3 separate regions of the Homo sapiens genome follow, and all the other regions are linked to region 1. The links come from fine-mapping of genetic effects on plasma protein levels. A gene starts in region 1. Each other region holds a variant in brackets. All regions are shown on one strand. Distances are between the middles of the regions.

Evidence for each region. PIP is the posterior inclusion probability: the model's chance that the variant is causal. The UK Biobank Pharma Proteomics Project read protein levels with antibody pairs (Olink). The fine-mapping took linkage between variants from a reference panel, not from the people measured, so its PIPs are less certain.
Region 2: its variant is fine-mapped to the plasma level of the DKK1 protein (UK Biobank, PIP above 0.99).
Region 3: its variant is fine-mapped to the plasma level of the DKK1 protein (UK Biobank, PIP above 0.99).

What each region holds. Positions count from the first base shown.
Region 1 is chr10:52,310,680-52,318,866 of GRCh38, forward strand. DKK1 (dickkopf Wnt signaling pathway inhibitor 1) reads left to right here and starts at 3,602. Exons shown (of 4, transcript NM_012242.4): 1 at 3,602-3,998; 2 at 4,244-4,406; 3 at 5,616-5,756; 4 at 5,875-6,978. The coding sequence starts at 3,756. The coding sequence ends at 6,128. It overlaps PRKG1-AS1 (PRKG1 antisense RNA 1), which reads right to left and starts at 3,449. Exons shown (of 6, transcript NR_038277.1): 1 at 2,955-3,449; 2 at 2,719-2,806. RefSeq lists an enhancer at 7,585-8,187.
Region 2 is chr10:52,649,257-52,657,443 of GRCh38, forward strand. All of the region lies in intron 1 of LOC105378305 (a long non-coding RNA gene), which reads right to left. Among named protein-coding and RNA genes, the nearest start is that of MBL2, 120 kb to the right of the region's middle. The variant A/C (reference allele first, on the strand shown) is at 3,477.
Region 3 is chr10:52,447,306-52,455,492 of GRCh38, forward strand. LNCAROD (lncRNA activating regulator of DKK1) reads right to left here. Exons shown (of 4, transcript NR_120641.1): 3 at 7,281-7,444; 4 at 3,572-4,212. Among named protein-coding and RNA genes, the nearest start is that of LNCAROD, 19 kb to the right of the region's middle. RefSeq lists an enhancer at 5,020-5,888. The variant G/A (reference allele first, on the strand shown) is at 3,853.

The DNA of each region.
Region 1 (8,187 bases):
GTGAGACCCTGTTTCTACAAAAAAATTAAAAATTAGCCAGGTGTGGTGGCATGCAGCTGTAGTCCCAGCTACTTGGGGGTGAGGTGGAAGAACCGCTTGAGCCTGGGAGGTCAAGGCTGCAGTTAACCACGATTGCACCACTGTGCTCCAGCCTGAGCGACAGAATGAGATCCTGTCTCAAAAAATATATAAAAATATATAAAATAAAAAAAATCAGCAGTCACAAATAATAGAGATGGAAAAATAGTTGGTGAATAGCATGGAGTGTTTTGGAGTATATTTGTCTGTCTCCCTCATGGATGAAAAGGTTGAGAAATATTCTATGCATGGCATCCAGCACTTAAAATATAAAGAAGACATGTGTTAGCATGCTGTTCCCGAGTTATGAGGTTCAATTCCACGCTGATAAGCATATTTCACCTATTCAAAAATATAATACAAAATATTAAATTTGTTACATTAATTATGATCATATTTATACCAGACTGAATAGGAGGCAGGGTTCCCTACAGGACTAAATAAACTCAGTTTAATAAACTAAATTCATCTACTCTGGCTCCCACCTCCTCTGTCACCCAGCTGTAAGAGAGACTCAGACAATCACCAGAACCCTCTCTCCTTCCTAAGACATGTTGGTCACAGTTCCTGCACATTTTTCTTGCTCTCCATGACCTAGTATCTGCCAAAATATAATCGATGTTGGAAAAATTTTTACCCCCAGCCCCATGTAAGTATGTTGTATTTCCCCAACTAGTCACAGACTGAAAGCTGAGGACAAGAAGCCTGCCTTTCATATTGTGAGATATGCTCCCAATAATGGATACTCACCGAATATTAACTGGCTGCTGATGGAACAATGAGTTTTACTATACCTCTTTATCTACCTTGCACTCTTGTTGCCAATGAACAAACCACATCCTGGAAAGGATTTTCAAATGGAGAAAAAGTACTGAAAAAATAAATTTCCTCATTTGGAACAAAGGTTTGATTTGCTATGTACTTAGCCCTCTCTGAGGACCACCCATGTAATTTCTCCCCTGAATAATTTGTGAGGTTACCTCTCCTCTGCCCACTAAATGATTTGAAGGTAGATTATATGTGAACTCATCTTTTATCACACAATATCATGTATAATGCTTAGCACAAAGTAGGAACTCAGATATTGACCAACTCATTATTAGTTTTAAACTCATGACAACTTCAGGAGCAATGTGAAAGCTGAGGAAGGAGGTAGAAGCTAGCCCATTCTTGAAACTCTATGCTTGGTTTAGCTCTCCTAGCTCAATACCACAGATTCTGTCCAGACTCAGTGAATATTGAAACATAATAGACAAATGATATGTGTTCAGAGATCAAGGTTGAATTTATGCAACAAGCTTCTTTGTTATAACAGAATTTTCCTTTTGTTGATTAAATTGTTCCACTTTCTCTTCTTTTGCCCCAGGCAATGGATTTTTTTTGTGAAGCCAAGCTTTTAATGAACCAAGTTCATTAAATGTATTAATCATATACTATCTCTTCAGAAAAAAAGGCAAGAGATTGGCCTTTAGTGTGGCACAAATATATTTCTAGATTCAAAATATTTAAACAGGTTAATAGGACTAAAAAGAAACATTTTCAACCTTCTGATTGGCAGGCGGATTTTTCTCTACGTTTCAAAGTCATTCAAACTTAACACAGCTTGCAGATTTCCTAGTACACTGAAGGTGCTTAACGCATTGATTCCTGACAGGATAATTTCCTGGACAGATGGAATTTGGGATGGGAAGGACACTAATATAACTAGGGTACCATTCAAGAATTGTTTAGATGATCTTCTTAATATTACCTTTGAAACTGAAGGAACTAGAACACAGACCATAGTAAATTGTGTTTTAATTACTCCTTCTCCCAGTAAACTTTAGGATTTTTTTACTTTAAGATTGTCACTGGCTTTACTTGGTGGTGGCCCCAGTTCTGACTATAGTAGGTCAGCATGTGGAGTCATTATAGACAGCCTAAATCTATACAGCTTAGAGGAAGACAAAATAAATATATCTTACTCTTTTTTAATTCAATAGTGATTATTCAATCATCTCTCCCTTTTCCAAACTCACAAAACAGTTGCTTATTTTCTGACACTTATAATATCAACCTGTTTTTAAAAGAATTATGTATGCTTTTATATTTATTGCTATAATTTTATTGTTACTACATCTTTTATTATTACTGTAATTAGAATAAAGAGAACTTTATTATTTAAAATGAGAGCTGTGTCTCATAAATATTTGTATTCACTGTGCCCCTCCCCCCACCACCCATCTCACCAAAAAATTTAAAAAATAAAAATAAGGTAACAACCCAGAGGGCAGCCCAATGCCAGGGCTCTAGGCTTCCAATAAGTTTTTGTTGAATTAAATAGATCATTTCCCATTTATAAGCATGACATCATTCTTATACACCAGCCTTACTTTATTATATCCACACACCAATTTCAATGACGTCAAATTCACTTTCTAATTCACTTTCAGCTCTTCTTCTCCTCAAGGTTGTTTCTTTTCTCCCTAGAAAGGGTATTGCGTGGTCCCGTGCAAGGTAAGACTTGGGAGCAAACCCTGCATTCGGAAGCGTTGCGATGTGATATACTAATGAGGAAGTCAGGCGCTAAGCCCTAAGGGTTTCTTATTTCTCCACATTAGCCCACCACTGAGAAGGGAGAACCGGGGAAAGGCGACTGACCTGGCACGTTGGACCCTGTCCGCTTTGGTCCCGGCCACTTTGATCTCACGCGTCTGCCTAATCAAGTTCATCTACCGCCGCGATTGCCCTGATTCAAAGAACAACATTAAATGGTTTGATTATCGGATGGTCATTTCCCTCTTCCCTCCACCCCTGATCTAATTTCTAAACGCCAGTCTCTCGCCTCCCTCTCTAAACTTCCCATCAAAAGAGAATTAGCTCTTCTTCCTTCTTACCCTCGTTTGATGTGCAAATTTCCTTCTCTTTGCACATTTTTCTCGCAGTGGCGGGGGGAGGTGGGGGAGGAGGGCAACTGAAGGACCTCAAAGCCGGGGATCTAACTCAGATCTGCAAACTGCGACTCTAAAGGGTTAATGAGCAACTTGCACCCGCCACCTGGCCCTCTCAGAGGCGTCTTGCTAGAGCCATTGAATTACAGACCGGTTTGTATTTAATACTGAATATGACTTGTGTGCACAGTCAGCGAGTATTGGCATAAAGGAGAGGGGCAAAAAGTGCTTTTGCAGAGCCTATCACCCCTCGGCTCTGTAAAGTATTTCAGATCCGGATAATTCAACCCTTACTGCCAGGCAAGGGCACCCAAGTTCCCAGAGTTCCTGCTGCCGCCTGCATTTATTAAAGTCGTCTGCTATAACGCTCGCTGGTAGCCTTCACCCCGAAGGTGAGCCGGGCCAGCCGAGCGACTAAGCAAGGGAGGGGCGGGGTGAAGAGTGTCAAAGGCCCCCCTTCATGTACACAAACACACCCCCTCCCAGCCCCTCCCAGCGCTTTGAAATCCCATCCCGGCTTTGTTGTCTCCCTCCCAAGGGGCCGGAATGCTCCGGGCCCGCGGTATAAAGGCAGCCGCGGTGGCGGTGGCGGCGCAGAGCTCTGTGCTCCCTGCAGTCAGGACTCTGGGACCGCAGGGGGCTCCCGGACCCTGACTCTGCAGCCGAACCGGCACGGTTTCGTGGGGACCCAGGCTTGCAAAGTGACGGTCATTTTCTCTTTCTTTCTCCCTCTTGAGTCCTTCTGAGATGATGGCTCTGGGCGCAGCGGGAGCTACCCGGGTCTTTGTCGCGATGGTAGCGGCGGCTCTCGGCGGCCACCCTCTGCTGGGAGTGAGCGCCACCTTGAACTCGGTTCTCAATTCCAACGCTATCAAGAACCTGCCCCCACCGCTGGGCGGCGCTGCGGGGCACCCAGGCTCTGCAGTCAGCGCCGCGCCGGGAATCCTGTACCCGGGCGGGAATAAGTACCAGACCATTGACAACTACCAGGTGAGAGGGGTCGGGCACTCAGAGGATGCTCTGACCTTGAAAGGGTCCTATCTGGAGACGAGGGAGTAGAACGTGCTGAATGTGTGCGGTTCAGGGAGCATTTGGTAACCCTGCATTTGGGAGCAGTGGGCAGTAACAGGTTTTGGAGAGGTGGACAGATAAGGACTGTGATCAGCGCCCGGGTCCAAGAGGGCGGGTACCTGGACGTCTGGGTGCCTCACCCTCTCCCCGAACCCTTCCCACAGCCGTACCCGTGCGCAGAGGACGAGGAGTGCGGCACTGATGAGTACTGCGCTAGTCCCACCCGCGGAGGGGACGCAGGCGTGCAAATCTGTCTCGCCTGCAGGAAGCGCCGAAAACGCTGCATGCGTCACGCTATGTGCTGCCCCGGGAATTACTGCAAAAATGGTGAGTCCTGAAAGCTCCCTTTCACACTAAAACTGTCCAGCCTTTGAGCGTCTATGAATTGGGCGGGGGCGGGGGGTTGGGGGGGGTGGGGGGAGAAATCTCCGCCCTGAGAACACTGCGGCGCCACCTGCAAATGGGTGTTCAGCATGCAGGATTCCGCTGAAGTATCTTCATTGCAAGTGTTTAATCGGGAAGAAGAGAGAAGTTGGGAGGTCTCTGAGGTCCTTATCTTCCTCCGTGTCCCTCAATGATTCAATACAACGGTTCACCTCGTAGTGGACTCTTCCATAAAAATTTGTCTGGGGAGAACCTTGAGGTCAATTGAGAAGGGGGATGATGAGGAGGACGATGGGATCATACAGATATCAAAGAAACCAGCTTTGGCGTTCAGCTGTCCTTTTCATTTTTCTTATTGTGATTCTCACAGTTTTGCCAGACTGGCCTCGCCTTCTGATTTTTGCTGAAACTGTTGTCAGCCAGAGGACTGATTTATCTGCATTGGCCATTTTTAAGAGAGATCTTGGTACCCTCACAACTTGACTTCTCCATCCTTCCCCCTCCCTCTACCCTCTGCTGCCTTAATATAAGTACTCCTCCCCCCAACCACAGATCCACTAACTTTTAATTTTTCAAAAGGTGGATTTAGACAGCTAAAGAGGTCTCCAGAAATAAGCTAACAGGGCGACGACCCTCCTTAGGACCCAGCAGTACTCCAGGATGAACTAAGTAAATCTCTGTAATATAGAAATTACACAGTAAAGTAACTGGCCGGTGAGATTGCAATGTTCCAGGCAGCTGGAATTGCATTTGCTTAACTTAGTCTGGTAGGACCCATATAGCACCAGGGGCAGAGAAGTTATTTTTAAGAACATTTTTAAAGTGACTGAGTTTCTTTTTCTTACCCCAAAGGTAATATTAAAATGGGCAGAAATCTCACTTGCCCCTACCACAGTTGGTGGGAAAGTATTTTAAATGGCTATACTGGGGATATTACCTATGACTGACTGTATACAGTATACACATTGGTGCTTCTGTCCATCTGGAGAGTTTTGCATTAACAGTAAAGAGGAAGTTTGGCTTGTGTTTAAAATGATGTCACTGCAATGAAGTATCTCAAGTTGATGCTGGCATAACAGACTGCCACTGTCACAGCTGTTAGCAGTAATGCATTACAACCCTGAAGTTAATCACTATTTCCTGCTTCCTTAGGAATATGTGTGTCTTCTGATCAAAATCATTTCCGAGGAGAAATTGAGGAAACCATCACTGAAAGCTTTGGTAATGATCATAGCACCTTGGATGGGTATTCCAGAAGAACCACCTTGTCTTCAAAAATGTATCACACCAAAGGTAAGGATGTTAAGACTCATTCTTAGCACATCAGAAGTGTCTTTTGAATTATTTTAGTGAAACGATGCAGGTTTAACAGTAACTATGTACTTTTTTCCTACTGTCTTCTCCTTCGTAGGACAAGAAGGTTCTGTTTGTCTCCGGTCATCAGACTGTGCCTCAGGATTGTGTTGTGCTAGACACTTCTGGTCCAAGATCTGTAAACCTGTCCTGAAAGAAGGTCAAGTGTGTACCAAGCATAGGAGAAAAGGCTCTCATGGACTAGAAATATTCCAGCGTTGTTACTGTGGAGAAGGTCTGTCTTGCCGGATACAGAAAGATCACCATCAAGCCAGTAATTCTTCTAGGCTTCACACTTGTCAGAGACACTAAACCAGCTATCCAAATGCAGTGAACTCCTTTTATATAATAGATGCTATGAAAACCTTTTATGACCTTCATCAACTCAATCCTAAGGATATACAAGTTCTGTGGTTTCAGTTAAGCATTCCAATAACACCTTCCAAAAACCTGGAGTGTAAGAGCTTTGTTTCTTTATGGAACTCCCCTGTGATTGCAGTAAATTACTGTATTGTAAATTCTCAGTGTGGCACTTACCTGTAAATGCAATGAAACTTTTAATTATTTTTCTAAAGGTGCTGCACTGCCTATTTTTCCTCTTGTTATGTAAATTTTTGTACACATTGATTGTTATCTTGACTGACAAATATTCTATATTGAACTGAAGTAAATCATTTCAGCTTATAGTTCTTAAAAGCATAACCCTTTACCCCATTTAATTCTAGAGTCTAGAACGCAAGGATCTCTTGGAATGACAAATGATAGGTACCTAAAATGTAACATGAAAATACTAGCTTATTTTCTGAAATGTACTATCTTAATGCTTAAATTATATTTCCCTTTAGGCTGTGATAGTTTTTGAAATAAAATTTAACATTTAATATCATGAAATGTTATAAGTAGACATACATTTTGGGATTGTGATCTTAGAGGTTTGTGTGTGTGTACGTATGTGTGTGTTCTACAAGAACGGAAGTGTGATATGTTTAAAGATGATCAGAGAAAAGACAGTGTCTAAATATAAGACAATATTGATCAGCTCTAGAATAACTTTAAAGAAAGACGTGTTCTGCATTGATAAACTCAAATGATCATGGCAGAATGAGAGTGAATCTTACATTACTACTTTCAAAAATAGTTTCCAATAAATTAATAATACCTACCTAAATGGTCAATATTTTTCGGACAAGGAAGAAAATCATCCACAAAAATAATACTCCAAAGTACTTGGTGATTGGCAGGAACAGGATGTGTGCCCATAAATACAGTTAACAAATACATGCAGATTTTGTACCAAACAAAATAATTTGCAGTATCTTGAGTACTACTGCATGCAAAGCAGACTTGTTCTAATTATTTTGGTTTTAAAATAATTATTAATTAAAAATCACAAATCCTTCCTCATTCCACTCTTTTTTTCTCTTGCTAGGTGAGTTTCATATTTCAAGTTTTGTTTAACCTGAAATCTATTGATTGGAATGAGGATACGGATACAGTATTTTAAAGAAAACCCACAGGAATAAAATCTAAATTTTCTTTGCATTTGTACTTGCCAGATTTCATATTGTTTATACTGAGGAAAAGGGAAAGCAAACTTCCCAATTTATACTTTTTCTGTAGTATTCTAAAGTCTGCACCCAAACCACAAAATGCTGCATTTCAGGCCTGCAAAGGATAGTAGTGACTGATCAATCGTGCAAATATTTCCTTAAATAACGCAGATGTACTAGACCGTTTGTTGTTTTTGTGTTTCTGGAAGTGGTTCAATTTCAAGGGTCTCAACCAGTGGGACACAAGCTTTGGTTGGTTCTTCACTGAAAGAGGAACTGGCAGGATGTCTGCTGTTACATTCCTTTTGTCTGGAAGTCTCAGCTTCCTCACCCAGGAGAAACTTTCTTTTTCTACATGCGCTTGTTTTCTGAAGTGCCAGAAAGGCCAATTCTAAGGCCTGCCATGTCCAATAAAGCACAATAAAGGAAAGGAAACAGGAAACTTTTTCTCCAAAAAGAAGAAAGAAGAGCCTTCTGCTTAAGTGGGGAAAGAAGCAAACTTTTAAAGGGCTTTGGTTATTGGATCCCTTCCTTTCTACAGGAACGGACCTCAGTACATTGACCCTAGTGACAGCCTTTCTTGCTTCTCATCTCCAGATGAGAGATGTGTGGAAGAATACAAAACCAACCAGAGGGATGCCTCTTCTTCCTATCCAGCTGAGAAATTAGGAAGGGATTTCTGTTAAAAAGAATTCTTCATATTTATAAAGGTGGAAAATACCAAGAAAATTGTAGGTTTTTATTAGCTAGTAATAGAGGCTAGACGATGGAAATCAGATAAAATACAAATTCAAAAGAGGATTATTTAAGGAATCTAGAAC
Region 2 (8,187 bases), 340 kb after region 1:
TAAGTATTGTTTACCTAATATCTGGTATATGGTATCTGTATTAGTCCTATAAGACACATCTTTCTTAAATTTGTAACTGTCCCTTCATCTCACAGTTTTCTAATGACCTTCTACAGAAAGCCTTAAACCCAACATCTGCCTTCCCCAGAAATCTTATCTTTTTTCCATCCAAGTCCCAAAAAGCTACTACTGCCCTCATTTTCTTTTACCTTCTCCATTGCACACACATCTGCTAATGCTAATTGGCTTTCTTTAAGATCTCCTAGAGGGAATCAGACATTCTAACCCACAGAGAGGTTATCATTTCGTTCATCTGGTTCTGCAAACATTAAGAAGTTACTATCTACTTACTGAAAGACATGTTGCCTCATCTTTGTATAAACTTACAAAAAGGAAAGAAAACCCAGTGGGTTCATGCTTTCTTTGCTTCCAATTTGTGGCTCAGAAAAAAATCAAAATTATTGTAGAACATGAGTCCAAAAGCTAAACAAAATAGACATATTTATCAGACAAGGACTGATTTAGAAAGTGTTTTTGAAGATTAGCATGCAGAGGGAGACAAAGTTTAATGTTAAAAAGCATGCTCTGCAAGACTGAAATGTTATTTAAGAAATTAAGTTTGAAATTGTTTTAATTAGTATACATGTGGAAACAATAGAAATCCACCAACTAGAAAATATATCCATCCAATCCTGAATGTGCCCAGGCATTTTATGAATCATTTTATGTTAGAATTCCAAGAAAGAGAATATTATAACTCTTTAGTAACAGCAAATTTATCCTATAATTACTTTCTCTCTTTCTATTCCCTTGTTTATGTGCCCCTTATAATGTGAGCATCACTGGATATGATTGCAGAGTTTGAAGATACATCTTTTTCATACAGCATTTCCCCTATTTCTGGAGTAAAAATTGGTTATCAGACTAACTGAAAGATACTATATTTGGAGCTTTTCATAGAGTAAAAAATAAATTATTTTATGAGCAACTTAAAGAATTTTCAAGAATAACTTTTATAAATGCAGCGTTTGCCTTAAGTACTAATTTCAGAATCTAACTTTGACTGAAATGAGACTCTGCTAGATTAGTCAAAATCTGCCTCTTGACTATTTCTCTTCATTAGCTGTGAGTTTTTTAGCTTAGAGTCATTAAATCTCTTTTTCTCTTACACAGAAGTGAGAGGGACACCTGAAATCCTAGGCCTGGGAGGGGTGGAGGCCTTTAGCATCACGTAGCTTTGTACAGATTCAAAAAGCACTGGATGACTGTTGAGGGTTTTTGAATAAGCAGTTTAGGTGAGATGATATATTTTTAAGACACCAAACTGATTTTCTCCATTTTTTGTTACCTCGTAATCCTTAATCCAGAGACTCAAATGCCTGTAATTACTTGTAAGAAGATAGAGAATGAAGTCAATTTTCGGTCTGAAAAATTTGATTCAATTTTTTTTTTATCCAGAGCAAGATAATATCTACCAAGTCATGATTTTACTTTTTTTTTAAGAAAAATAGATTTTTTAAATCCTAAAGCTTCCTTTTTACATCAAGGATCGAACTTAGAATTTAAGGCTTAGAGCTTTGCTATGGTACTCTGTGAGGAAAGATAAAAGAGATGGTGTTTCCTTGGGATAGAAAATAGAAATAGAAAACTCTTCAACTTCTGAGATTAGAAAATGAGGGGCTGTAAAAACCAGGTGATTTAGGTGAGGATGAGCAAGCTGCCCAAGGTCCTTTGGGTGAGGTTTAGAGAGAAGAGGCATATGATAGCCTCTGAACTGGATTCTGTATTGTGCAAGGGGAAATCAGAGAACAGCGAAGCTTCTGCTCTGCTTCCTGCATCGTGCAACATGGCGCATAGTGCTGGATCAGTAACAGGCAGAGAAAGGGTCCAGATGTGTAGCCTTGGGACAGAAAACCCCTGGTCTACAGTCTGCACCTGATATGGAAAAGGCCCAGATATTCCAGCATGACCATGTGAGGGAAGAATTATGTGAGTCGAGAATGAAAAGACAGAATAACTAAATAAAATTAGGCATAACTGCCAAGGGGTTATCATGTGCTCGAGGTGTGGAGACCACTGCAAGGTCAACAGCCCCAAGAAAATGGCAATAAGTCTCAGAGAATCAAGGCTGCCAGAAAGAATCAAAGTTCAGAGCCTCACTAGCATGAGGAGTTTGCTGACTTTCATAGAAGCAGTCACTCAGCTCTGTCTACCCAGACAGCACAGACCTTAGCTTTAGAATCCACAGATACTACAGCAAACACATGCAGCAAGGAGAGAGAACAATGCCACGACCTCCCTTTTATTCATCAGTCAGAGTCAGCAGGGCTGGCAGAGGACAAATTGTGGATCATAGCTGTCTTTTACTTCTTCTCACGAGATTGCATGTCCCTAGATACCATCCTAAAAGCATTGAAGAGGTAAGAAATCCAAAATGATTGTTTACCCTTAAGAGTGTTTTGTCCGGGCACGGTGGCTCACGCCTGTAATCCCAGCACTTTGGGAGGCCGAGGTGGGCGAATCACGAGGTCAGGAATTCAAGACCAGCCTGGCCAACATGGTGAAACCCCATCTCTCCTAAAAATACAAAAAAAAAAAAATACTACCCAGGCATGGTGGTGCATGCCTGTAGTCCCAGCTACTCAGAAGGCTGAGGCAGGAGAATTGCTTGAACCTGGGAAGTGGAGGTTGCAGTGAGCTGAGATCGTGCCACTGCACTCCAGCCTGGGTGACACAGTTGAGACTCTGTCTCAAAAAAAAAAAAAGAGTGTTTTAACCTGAGAGCCTTTAAAACCACAAGAGACAGAGTTACTGTTCATCAGGTTTTAGGGTTGTTTGTTTGGGATTTTTTTTTTTTTAATCAGCATGATGGAGGGCAAAATAAGGTCAATTATAGAACATAACAAATTACTATTTTTGTACAACTTAATTGGCGTGTGTAAATGTTAACCTGGCTGTAGAAGTATCTGTATGCTGTTCAACCCCCTTCTTTCCTACCTTATACAAACTCTCTCATCAACACAATGTAGAATTTACTTTTTTCACTATCCCTACTGGTAGTAAAGATAATAATATGTACAGAAATTTAGCAGATATGAGTCAAATACAATCAAAATGTTTCTTGAAACATTAGGAGAAATAGGAAGTATTTACATATGAATCAGGCAAGAGTGAAAAAGAAAACCTTATTCTCAAAGAAAAACTGCCACTTTGGATGGTGGTCAACTGGCATGGTTTATTTTGACTACCATCCTCCATGTATTTAATGAATGAGGCAAGCCCGTTGGCTTGTTACAATAACAACTTGGCAGTTAGACATCCTCCTAAACAATGTGCCAGCTTGAGAGGATAATTGACAATGCCACACACTGTGATCATTTATAACCCTGGGGTGTTCTTCTGAGATTTATTTTTAGTTATTTGATGACACAATTTTCCTGATCCACAATATTTTGCTCTTTTCCCCCAACGTTCGT[A/C]TCTGACCAAACCACAAAATGAATGCTCGATAAATCATCTCATATTCTTGCCACTTAAAAATCTTTTCTGCTTGTTTTCTTAAACTCTCCACTTGTTTGCTGCTCAGATGTACCTCTTATTTTAAGAAGCTAAAGAGGCAAATAGTTTTTAATTGCCCTGCAAATATTTACATCCTATACATCCTGTGATTACAGCAATTACACTTATCAGTTTTCCACCCCCTGCTAAAGTAACCGCAACATTATCATGAGGAAATCATGAAAAAAAAAAAAAAAAAAGCTGCAGCACACTCATTCCACTTTGAATATAATGGAAGAAGAAATGCCCATCCTTCACTAACTTGAACTACAAGATTATTTTCCACCCTCAGGAGGAACTGGTCTTTTCCCACCACTGATGGGCCACCACTGTTGCAGGATTTAAGTGTTACCTCGGAAATACCAAAAAGATAGTTCTATTACAATGTTGTATCCTATAAATACTCGAGTTATGCCTGTAATTGCCTTGAAATACATTGCCTGCTGTGCTTGCTTATGTCCAAGAGCAGGTTAGAAGGTCAGACTCAGACCTTTTGTAGCCTTGATAACTGGCTGTTACATGATTATGAAGTGAGTGGGAGAAGAAGCAATAGTTAATATTTGTGTTTCATTCACCAAAGAAATCCTTCTGGAACTCTTCATGGGATAATGATGAAATTCATTCGATTCATATTTGCATTTAAAGTATTAAGGTTTTTTCAAAAATAAAATATATAGCAAGGGCAGAAATTTTTGCTCGCAAATAGACCTTTCTAGTAATTTCAGTGTCAGATGTTGTATAGACTCTGTGCCTCAGACATTTAATGGCCTTTTCCCTGGACTCTTGCTCTTGGAATAGATTAGATTTAGAATCTGAAAATAGCAATGCCAATGCCAGGCTGGGTGGGGAGTACTGTGTGGTTCTGCCAAAGTACATGATGAGCTGTTCCCTAAGTAACTGGGTCATTTCTGAAATTCACGAGGGAAGAGGCACACTTGTGTTCTGTTTGCATGGAACAACAGTGACATCCAGTGCTAATACCGTTGATGTGAGCCTGAAATAATAACATCACATCGGCTGGTGTGGTGGCTTATGCCTGTAATCCCAGCACTTTGGGAGGCCAATTTGGGTAGATCACCTGAGGTCTGGAGTTCAAGACCAGCCTGGTCAACATGGTGAAATCCCGTCTCTACTAAAAAAATACAAAAATTAGCCAGGTGTGGTGGCAGGTGCCTGTAATCCCAGCTACTTGGGAAGCTGAGGCAGGAGAATCACTTGAACCTAGGAGGCAGAAGTTGCAGTGAGCCGAGATCACGCCATTGCACTCCATCCTGGGCAACAAGAGCAAAACTTTGTTGCAAAGAAAAAATATAATAATAATAATAATAATAATAATAATAATAATAATACCATCACATCATTTCTTGGTAAATGAACAAATACAATGACAAGGGAAATGTGGTTAAGGTTAGTGTCTTCACTAATAGCTGCTAATAACAGAGACAAATGCTATTTAAGGTTAGGGAGAGCATTTACCTAGCACATCCTAGCAGAAAGCAGTGTAGACTTCGTTTCATTTCCAGCCTCACTTCTGGGAAATACTGGCAGGGCACTTGGACCCTCAGCACCCTCTCAGTTTATCTCTTGGTACTCTCTCTTTAGTTTTGCTCCTGTAAGATAGTGGCAGGGCCCTTGAACTTTCAACACTCTCGGTTTATCTCTCAGTACTCTCTTAAGTTTATCTGTAAAATGGAAATAATGATGCCAGTTCACCATTTGACCACAGATGCTTCAAGCTCAGCATAAAGTCATTTGGAGTTGTCTTTTCTCCAGAGGGAAGATAAATATTCAGAGACATCATGAAAGCATGGACATATAGAGGAGCATTTGGACATACAGAGAAGTCCAAATTGCTTGTAATGTTATTGGGACTATTTAAGATTTTATTGCAGATTGTCTTCTTTCTGGAGAGAGTCATTTCTTTGTTCTCTATCATGATTGAGAAGGCCACCTGTGGTCTATCTAGTTCTTCACACAGTGTAGGTGCTTCTTACATTGCCTTGTGTTGGGGAAGACCCACCTTCTGAGCTATAATATAAATTGTTTGTCTATTTGCCTATTTGTTTGACTTTGGCAATAAATATCTCCTCAATAAACGATCCTCTAATCCATCTAGCATTTATTGAATAACTATTACAAGCAAGCATAGTGCTAGGCCCTGCTCATATATTATCTTTAATTTTTACATTATTCAACTAAGGTGGATTCTGCCTTCATTTTATAGGTAAGAAAAGTGCAACTTAGAGGCTCTCAATAATTTGCTCACACTTACAAAACTGGTAAGTGGGAATTGCAGGTTTGCCCTCAGACTTTCTAACACCACTGTGACCTTTGTTCAAAATGGAGTGCAGAATCCTGAGCCACTTGGGTAACATTTCAAGGACCCTTAGAGACTAATAGGTGGGCCTCTCTGTTGGTAAGAACTCTAGTTCACTGAGATTTTTCATTAATACTTTTGCATGTATGTAGCACACGAACTACATGTTTCCAACTGAATTTTAATCTCCTTTACACAACAACTGTAGTTTTATCTTTGTTACCAGGCTGAATATAATTTTGAATACTGTGTTGAGATCCTCCCTTTACATTTGTTTGAGATGGAAAGATGAACCAAACATGGGCCTGTACACAAGTTTTGATCGCTTTTTTTTTCCATTCAAATGCTTTAGGAAGACTGGTGGAATTACGTTTTTTAAGAAAGTGAAGTCATGTGGTAACTTTTATTTGGGTTCTATTCAATTTTGGGTTTTGTAGAAGACAGGGACCAAGTCTTTTGGGTCTTTGATGACCCGTAATACCTAGTTCAATAATTTAGACATCCTAGAGGATCAATAAAAGTTGAATTTGATGACATATTAGGTTTTATTCCGTGAACTTTAGCTAGTAGAGAAAGCACTTTCATTTCCCAGAGGCAGAGAGAAAAGTCTTGATTTATACAGTGCTTCCAGTTCCCATTTTCTCAGATGAATTAGGCTTTGAGCTCTGAAGAATTAACTAGTGTCTGTTTTCCCAGGAAGAGAAACCCAGTAGGAAAACACCTACACTTCAGTCTTAGGGAGGGATCCTGGAAGGACTCAAAGCACCCAATGGAGAAAGAAGGACCTTTGATGGGATCCGAGGCAGAACTGAATATATTTGTGAATATACAGTTTCAGCATAGCAAAAAATGACTTCATGGACCAGAATCTATCTTTTTCTTTCTCAGTAGTATGTGAGACAAAACACAGAAGATACAATTTGAGGCAAGAAAACCATCTTTATTTCTGCTAAACTATGTGAACTCTGAGGACAGGGAGTGTGGCTGTCTTGTTGACGACTGAGTCCAGTAACACAGATCTTAATACCAAGACTAGCATGCAATACTTAGTAAAATTGTTATAGTAGTTAATACGTGAATGAATAAATGAGAGGATAAGTGTTTTGTAGAGAATTGCTTGGAAATACTGGACAGGTCCAGGGTGGAGTTCAGAACAGGAAACATCCAGATAACTGTTCCCAAACACTGCCCAATGAGTAGCCACCAGTCACATGTGGCTATTGACATTTAATTAAATAAAATGAGAAATTTTGTTTCTCAGTCTCGCTAGCCAGATGTATTAGTGACTACCATAAAGTACAGTGCAAATATAGAACATTTCCATCAATACCGAAAGTTCTACTGGATAATGTTACTCTAGGGTACAAGGTTGAAAGAACAAAAGCCAAGCATATCTTAAAAGGTTTTTTTGGTTGTTGTTGTTTGTTTGTTTTTTATAGTATCCATCCCAGCTCACAAGTAAAAATATATTCGGGTTCCTAGGGTTTTAAGGAACTTCTGGAATAAATAATATGCTTTTGGCTGAAGAGCATCATGTATTGTATTTCATGACAGTAATACCTAAAACAAAACCTGTGTTGGGGGAAAAGCTGTAGGGTAGAAAGAAATCTTCAATACCTTCCCTGTTCAGTCCAGTTTCTAGTTATTGGCATAGATTCTAGGGATTCTTAATTATTCCTTTTGGGACTCTGAGGATTGAGAACAAATTTTTACATTAAAAAATAAAAAATAAACTTTTCTTTCATAACAAAAGTTGAAATTTAGAAAATAAAAAATAAATAAAAGTGTAAAAATTAAAATAGCCAATTATCTCCTGAAATAATCATGTTCTAGAATGTATTTATTCTGCCTTTTTTCTATGGACTTTTATTTATAGACATAATACATCATGAACCATTTACCATGTTATTGTTCTTGTACATTCTTAGCAACATGTTTTCCATAATGGTATTTTATTACATTAGGTAGATGTATTACAAATTACTTAACCATATCTTGTTATTAAACATTTAATTAATTGTTTTTCGTCTCATGACAATCTATACATCAAATGTTCTTGCACACAAAGTTTGCATACTTCCTTAAAATTATTTTGAAAGCTGGGAATTCTGGATCAAATTGCAAGCAAAATTTCAAGCCTTTCTCACACGCATTGCCAAATTTGCCCTCTACATTCATGCTTAAGCATGAGTTTGTCCATTGGATTTTTACTAGATGCGTGCTCTGCTAACAAAACCATACGTATAGGATTTGTACTTGACTGTTACTCTTGGGGTTCAACTTGTGGGAAGTGACAAAAGTTAATTTCAGTGGTT
Region 3 (8,187 bases), 140 kb after region 1:
GAGAGTTTCACTCAGATCATTGGTTACTCTGAGGATTATAGGAGAACACCATCATAGATAGATTTTCTGTGAAGTTACCAAAGCTTGCACTTTACCTCCTCTGCATGGCCTACATGCGCAGTCTTATACATAGTTTTATATTTATAAATTTCTTAAACCTTCTCTTTGCCCTTAATTATATAAGCTTTGGGACTCTCAAAATTTCCATCTGCTTTTGGAAAACATATTACTGTTTACCTATTAGCTTGCACATAGATGGCACTCAGTAAGTCCCCTTTTCAAACAATAGGGATGCTATGAAGTTAATTCCTCTCTTGTGAATAAGACAGGTGACCGCCAAATGGCTGTCCTCACATTAGACTTCTGTATCCCTAAGTTCCAAAGTGCCATCCTCTAAAACGTGGCACAAGTCTCCCCTCTATCCCCAGATTGACAACACCTTCCCCATACTTTGTGAATGGGGAAGCATTAAGCATTGATATTTCCAGAAATTGACAGTGTGGGGCTCCTATTTGATGAGAGCTTTGGAAAGTCTGTAAATAATAATAAGTGATCCTGACTGTTTGCTACACAGCGGGTTACTCTACAGAATTTGCAATAAAGGCTGCTCAGGGCCTTAGGCAGCAGACTCCATTCCCATGAACTTAGCTGCTATACAAACTGTCAGACTCCATCTCTCCTGGAATCAGGCACACATATGTAGATGACCAGGCATTTCAAACTCATTAATCACTAGGAGCTTACATTAAATATGATAAAGGCAAAGAATCCATTCCCTCAAATTTGTGCAATGCTGTCATTTTTCCCTCTTCTTCCCAGATATCCTGCTTCCCACTAATAGCTACCAATCACTCAGTGTCTACTTCATAAGGAACCATGAGAAAAATTCCTCATGCATCTCAGGAACAGGAACAACTGTGCTGTCTCTCACAGCAGTGTGATTTTGGCCAGCAACATGGGTAGTCTCATGACTAATTGTGCTTTCAAACTATATTTGCCTGGATTATTAGGATAGTCTGTTTCAAAATTACCACCAACATGCAGGAACCTATCAGAACGCTAAGACCAGTATGGCAGGCACCAACATTACTGCTTCAATATATATTTTCTTCCAGCTTATCTTTCTTCTTGCTTTAATTTCCACAGATTGGTCTGTTTTTCTTCCACTGGTATGTGTATATTTCTGGAGACTACCTCAAGTTCTCTTTTCAAAGGAGAAGTATTACATAAATACATACATAAATAAATATTTATTTAGCAGCACTGAGGGAACATTCTGGTTAAATCTTTGGTCAGGACTTATTTGTATCAAGAGCATTGGAGGTCTGACTTTCCCAACTTAATTCTCTAGCATCGTGTGGAGGTGCAAATGGTAGGTGACATATTATTTGCTAAAATTTTAATATGAAAAAATATGATTCCATTGTATAGGAGGTAAACAAAAAAGTAAAATTGGACTTAATTTAGTTTGGCAGTTATATTAATAAGATGGAATTTGAGTGTTAGTTGAAGGGATACATTTCGATTTATGAGGTACTGGAGTAGGTCAAGAAATGTTTTCTTTTCAGTTATTACCACCCCCGGCTGGAGGCAAGTCTAGAAGTGGGGTGTGCAAGGACAGAGCTGATGGCTCTTTATGAGTGCCCACAGAAATATAATTATATGAATTCCAAGAAACTAGTAGCCTTCCTTTGTTGGCAGCCAGGTAAGTCAATAGAGACTCAGGAGGGAGTCTACTCTTGGTTTGGGAAAAAACTTAGACCAAAAAATGAATCATAGTAGAAAAGAGACCAGAGAGAGGGTTGTTTGCCTTCCCTCATGAAGAAGAATTAGTTTTCAGTACCCTGCTGAAGAAAAACAGGATTCTTTGCATTCATACATGCATTTCTCCTCCTTCTCTCAGGTCAATAACTCTGGATATCTCTTACAGAAGAATACTGCTATAGCACACTTGCTATACATTTTATTTAGTGATAATCCCTCAGTACTTACAAAGAGTTCCTGCTATTCTGACTATAAAATACATTTTTAATTGTTAAATTTTATATTAAAATTTTTAAAGCAACCTGAAAAAGTACATTTTGGAAAGTGTTTGGAAAAAGTACATTTTGGAAAATACCATTATAGAATGACATGAATTTTAATGCTGCTTTGTGTTGTGTTGGCAATACCTGAATCTGCAATTGAGAAGGTAATGGATCTTTCATAATCTCGGGGCTATTAATTGAATATGAGACTTGCATAAAAAAATTTGCATCTTGGAACTTGAGCATGGAACCACTCTGAGTATTGTATTCTTTCACTCCATAAAAAGGATCATTTTTTAAATGGACTAGTTTTTTGAAACTACATTGGGAGGAAAGAAAATTCAAAAGAAAACATTTGTAAAATTAAACCAATGGACTATTGATCTGCAAAGAATATTTGCTCAAAAAGGTGACAAAAATCAACATGAATTTTGGTTGCCAAGACCTTTTTCCAGCTTTTCACAACTGGTGCTTTCAGGGCTTTGGCAGAGTTTGACACATGCACCCAGCCTGGCAGCTCTGTGTTCAGGCGCTTGTGTAAGCACTGGACTCATACAAGGGTGTCCCACGTTGCTCATTTATGGAATCACAGCAAAAGTTTTACCTTCCTTCCTCTTCCACTATTATCACTGTACGTATTGTGAGATGAACATTGTCATATACTAAAATTTACATACAACTGTATTTTTTGTTAACAGAGACCAAAAGGGGATATAATAAGAAAGCACAGTAACTTATTATTAGCAGTCTTAATAAAAAAGCAAGGTGGGGCCAGGTGTGGTGGCTCATGCCTGTAATCCCAGCACTTTGGGAGGCCGAGGCGGGCAGATCAAGAGGTCAGGAGATAGAGACAAGCCTGGCTAACACTGTGAAACACTGTCTCTACTAAAAATACAAAAAATTAGCCAGGCGTGGTGGCACACACCTCTAGTCCCAGCTACTCGGGAGGCTGAGGCAGGAGAATCTCTTGTACCCAGGAGGCAGAGGTTACAGTGAGCCCAGATTGTGCCACTGCACTCCATCCTGGGGAACACAGCAAGACTCCATCTCAAAAAAATAAATAAAATAAAATAAAGGAAGGTGGAAATGTCCACTTCATAGCTTATTCACCTCAGAGATATTATTACTAGGTTGAGGCTGAAGATTAAGGGTCGAAGTTGATGTTGGTTGACATGTAACTGCCTGAAGTCTGAATAGGGAGTTAATTTTGCAAATTAACCACTATGACTCCAAGTCTGCACTGAGACATTCACTGGCACTTTCGGTTCATTGTCCTTGGACCCCTTCTGTCCAATTTCCAGGCCAGAATTGAAGTTTGAAAATTGCTGGTAGACTACTATAATCTCTATTTCAGGGAAAGTAAGAATGAGTGCCAATATGAAAGGAGAATCTCCCCTCCATACTCAGTAACTTTCTTCTTTATATAGATTGATAAAGCAGGCTTCTTTTGTAATTACTCACTCATTAGTGTAATTCAGTTGCTGGCACAGATCTTATTTAAGCCCCGTTGACATAAAATGGACTAGCCTCTATGACAAAAGTTCTATCAGCAGACAGATATATAAATATATTTCACTGCGATTAGATCTTCACGATAACTACAAAGTAAAAGGCTGTGAATTGTTATGTTACATTAGATATGAGAAAATTGAAGCTCTATTAGTTTAAATGACTTGTCTCGGTCAATTAGAGTAAAAGCAGCAGAGTTGAGACTCAAGCCCTGCTAGGCGTTCCACCTGCAAATACTATGCTCCTTCATCTATATTATGCAATCTCCTCTTCATTAATAGATAAGACAGTAAAAATAGTCATTTTACTGGTTGCC[G/A]TTGTGGCCAGAAGTTGACATTTCTCTGTTGAAAATTGTTCACACTGAATATACACCCTCTGAGAAGTTACTCTGGCATTGAATTAACCTGCACTGCTTTAACTTTTCCACTTTTTCCCCAACTTTTACATTAACATCAGAAACTAATAGCAATATTAAGGACATAAATGTAATCATGTATTTGAACATATTTCGAGGGCTACTGAAGAAGCCTCCTTATTTTAGGATAATTATCAGAGTTCCACTGGAGTTGTCTCAGTGTAGGAAGTTCCATAGCTAGTCTTCGTAGATTGGGGTTATCAGCAGTCTTCAAACTTGGGGGTCACAGCATCCCAGAAGGGGCTCTTACTCTAGCCCTGGCTGATTCCAAAGATACAAGAATGTTTAATGTAAGAAACAGTTTTAGAAAAATGAGACAAATTATATTAAAATTTGCCTTAAGTTCACATTTATTTACGTGAACTCTTTGGCATAAGGCATTTAATACTCTCTTTAAAAAACATGGATGTGAATAAGTGAAGTAAAACATATACAGGGAAAAAGGATTCCAAGTTATTGCAGATAATTACTTTTCAGGTCAATTTTTATTTCTTTAAACCACTCACTTATCCATAGGAGTCAAGGCTTTGACTAACACAAAGTCTAACACTAGAATTTGAAAGCAGACTTTATTCATTTGCATAAAAGATAAAGCCTGCCACCAAGAAAGGATTTTGTCTTTCTTATAAAGAAGCCAACATTACCCTAAGCCATAATAAGTTTTGAACACTAGGTTTCTTGTTTGTAGATTGTATGACTAATATGAAAGACAATTACTAAATAGTATAAACTCAAGTTACATCCTTCTATCCTCTCATTTCTCAATATCTTCAAATAAAACAATGCCATTTTGGACACAGGCTAATGGAACTGGAATGTGCTTCAGGGCAAAGAACTTGGTAAGCAAGGAAAGTCATAAAATTATGCCTTTTTTTTTTTAAATTAAGAGAGACTAATGGTGCACTTTTCTGTTTAAGATATGCCAAAAATGAAATTAGAAGATGTGTTGTCTAAATTTTTACTCCTTCAGAAAGCATTTATTTTTCTCATACTTTCTGCTTGAAGTGTGAGTACTATGGTGTCACTGAATTCAAAGCTATTTTTATTTTTGTAATTTGCAGCTAAATCTGATCCCAAAAGATGGTTGTTAAGGATGAACATGGCTCTTTCCACTGAATTTTCAGTAAAATAATTATAATGGGGATTGATTGGTGGATTAACATAAAAATTAAAATACAAAATCCCCTTGTTCTTACATGGCAAAATAAGGTAAAATCTCTTATTCTTAACTGCCTTTTCCTGAAACAGTGTATAATTCCACCATTTGTTCTCTTTAAAAGAAAGATTTGGGCTAGAGAGAGACAGCTTAAACTCGTCTCATCTGCTTGCACCGCTCTCCAAGTAGGTAATTGCAGAAAGAAAAGACAATTCTTTGATCTCAGCGAGGTGCTAATTTGTAAGATTTTTGAGCTGTTTGGGCCTTAGGAAGCAGGGATCAGTACGTAAACAATGGCATTTATCTGGCAGCCTATTACTGACACATTACTATCTCAGTACTTATTCATTTACACTGGTGTTTGAAGACAGGACTATGTGTCAATAAAGGAATTAGACCAGACACCTCAGTCCATCAGGTTTATTTCAGTTTGCTGACAGGAACAGTAGGTGACATTAAGCAACAGAAAACACTTCAAAGTTTTCTATCCTTGGTTTTGCAATGAAGACAAACAACATTTACTGCTTTAGCAGCAACAAACAATGAGCGTAAGACTGCAGAGGGAAGATGAAAGAGCACACCAAATTATCAAACACAAAGCCTGCCCCTACCCCATTTCTACTCATCCCCTGAATTTCATTAGAGCGATTTTTTAAAAAGAGCTTCCAGTGATAAGTTGTGTTCATTTGGACCTCTTAGAAGACAACTCTCTTGAGAAGGACGGTAGGAAATGAATGAATAAGAAAATTTTACTTGACTGTTCAGTAGCTACTTTTTTTTTTTTTGACCAACTTTTCTTTTAAGTTCCAGGGTACCTGTGCAGGATGTGCAAGTTTGTTACATAGGGAAACGTGTGCCATGGTAGTTTGCTGCACAGATCAACCCATCACCAGGTATTAAGCCCGGCACCCATTGGCTGTTCTTCCTGGTGTTCTCCCTCCCACCCGCCACAGGCCCCCGTGTGTGTTGTTGCCCCCGATGTGTCCATGTGTTCTCATCGTTAAGTTCCCACTTGTAAGTGAGAACATGCGGTGTTTGGTTTTCTGTTCCTCAGCAGCTACTCTTAATTAAATATTTCAATATTCATTTATTTAAACATCTTTTCAATAAACAGTCAAGGTGTGTCCACTATAAACTAGACCTGAATAAAGATGATACTATTACTTTTACAGATTCCTGGAACTATGAAAGGTAACATGAAGTTATAATACAGCACCATCTTAGGCAAATGCAAGGTTGTATTTGAGGCGCTGTGGAAATAAGGTAGATGAACTGTGTCTCAGAGGGATTGCCAAATGCTCAAATGGATTGGGAAATGTTTTTCAATTAACATGTAAATTGAAAAACACTTGAAAGAAATACTTTCCTGCATCATCAAATAAAAATTCCTCTCAGATTTCTTCCTCTGTACATCTCAATTTGGAATGATTTACCAGTGTTTGGGTATGCTTTACATACAACTTTGTTAAAATTTTGAAATATAGATTAATTAGCTTATTCAGTAAATATTCATTGAATGAATGTTATAGCACTCCTTGTTCTAGCCCGACACAGTGCACAGAACAAGACAGTCTAGATCCTTGTTTTTATGTGGGATGGAAAACAATGAACTGAAAATGTTGTGATGCTGAAAATTACATAAAGGGAAAGAACAAAGTGGTGGGATAAAGAGTGAGTGGAAGGAGGTGGAAGTAACATTAATAAAATTGGTACTGTAGACTGAGTGGTCATGAAAAAAAACTGTAATGATAGGAAGTAATCATGAAGTAAAAGGAACATTTAGGCAGCGGGAAGAACAGATAGGACAATATATTGACATGCTGGAAAAACAAAGGGCTGGACAATATATTGACATGCTGGAAAAACAAAGGGCTGGTCTAGAGAAGGGATAGTGAACGAGGGAGAGAGTGAGGTAGCAGATGAAAGCTGGAGAGGAAAATGGGGGAGAGGCTATACTGAGGAAGGGAGGGGATATTAGGAGATGAAGGCATAGACATAAAGGAGATCAATTTGTAGGTGATTTCAAGTACTGGTAATAATTTTAGAACATACTCTATTTAGAAGGTATTCTAGTTTTGCTTAACCCATATGCAGCATTTGACCTTGTTAATTTCTCCTTCCTCATGGAAACCCTTTGCTGCTTGGCTTTCAGACACCACACTCTCCTGGTTACCTCCATCTTCACTGGCTGCCCCTTCTCAGTCTCCTTTGCTGGCTCTTCCTCATCTTCCAGTTTACAATGGAGTGTCTCAGGGCTCCGTCTTCAGACTTCTTCCCTTTTCTATTTACATTCACTTCCTCCATGATCTCACTCAGTCTCACGGCTTCAAACAACATCTGTAACAGAATGACTACCAAAATTATATTTCCAGCCTCTACCTCTCCTTTCAAATCCACATTTAAACATCCAACTGCTTACTTGGCATCTTGGCTTGGATGTGCAATCTGCATCTCGAATGCACCCATCCTAAAACCAAGTTTCGTGATATTCTCCCCTAAATCTCTTCTTCCCTTAGACTTCCTTATTTTAAGTAATGGCTGTTCCAGACTTTCAGTTGATCAGACTAAAAACCCTGGATCCATCCTTGCTCCCTCTGTGCCCCCTCCTCACAGATGCTGAGCATGTTTTCGGCTCACCCAGTTCTAACATTTCACCTAAAGTAGAGCAGTAGAGTTCTAAGTGGTCTCCCCACCTTGGCCTTTGTTCCCCTTCAGACAATCCTCATCGCAGTAGCCTGTGTTCCTTCTAAACCCTAAGCCAGAGCCTGTCTCTTCCCTGCTCAGCACCGTACTCAGAGTCTACAAGGACTCAGGCCCTCCCTAACCTAGACTCTGTCATCTCTCTAACATCATCTTGAATTCTCCCCACCTCTCTCACTCTGCTTCTTGCTGTTCCTGCACTTGCTTTTTCTGCTCCGTGGAATGCTATTACCCTCAAACTCCACCTCCTTTCTGACTCACCTTCTTCAGGTCTTTACTGAAAAGGCATCTTCACAATAAGGCCTTTGCTGACAACCCTATTGAAAGTTGTAATGCCTCCAAACCCCATCTCCTTGCCTAGCTCCCTGCTTTATTTTTCT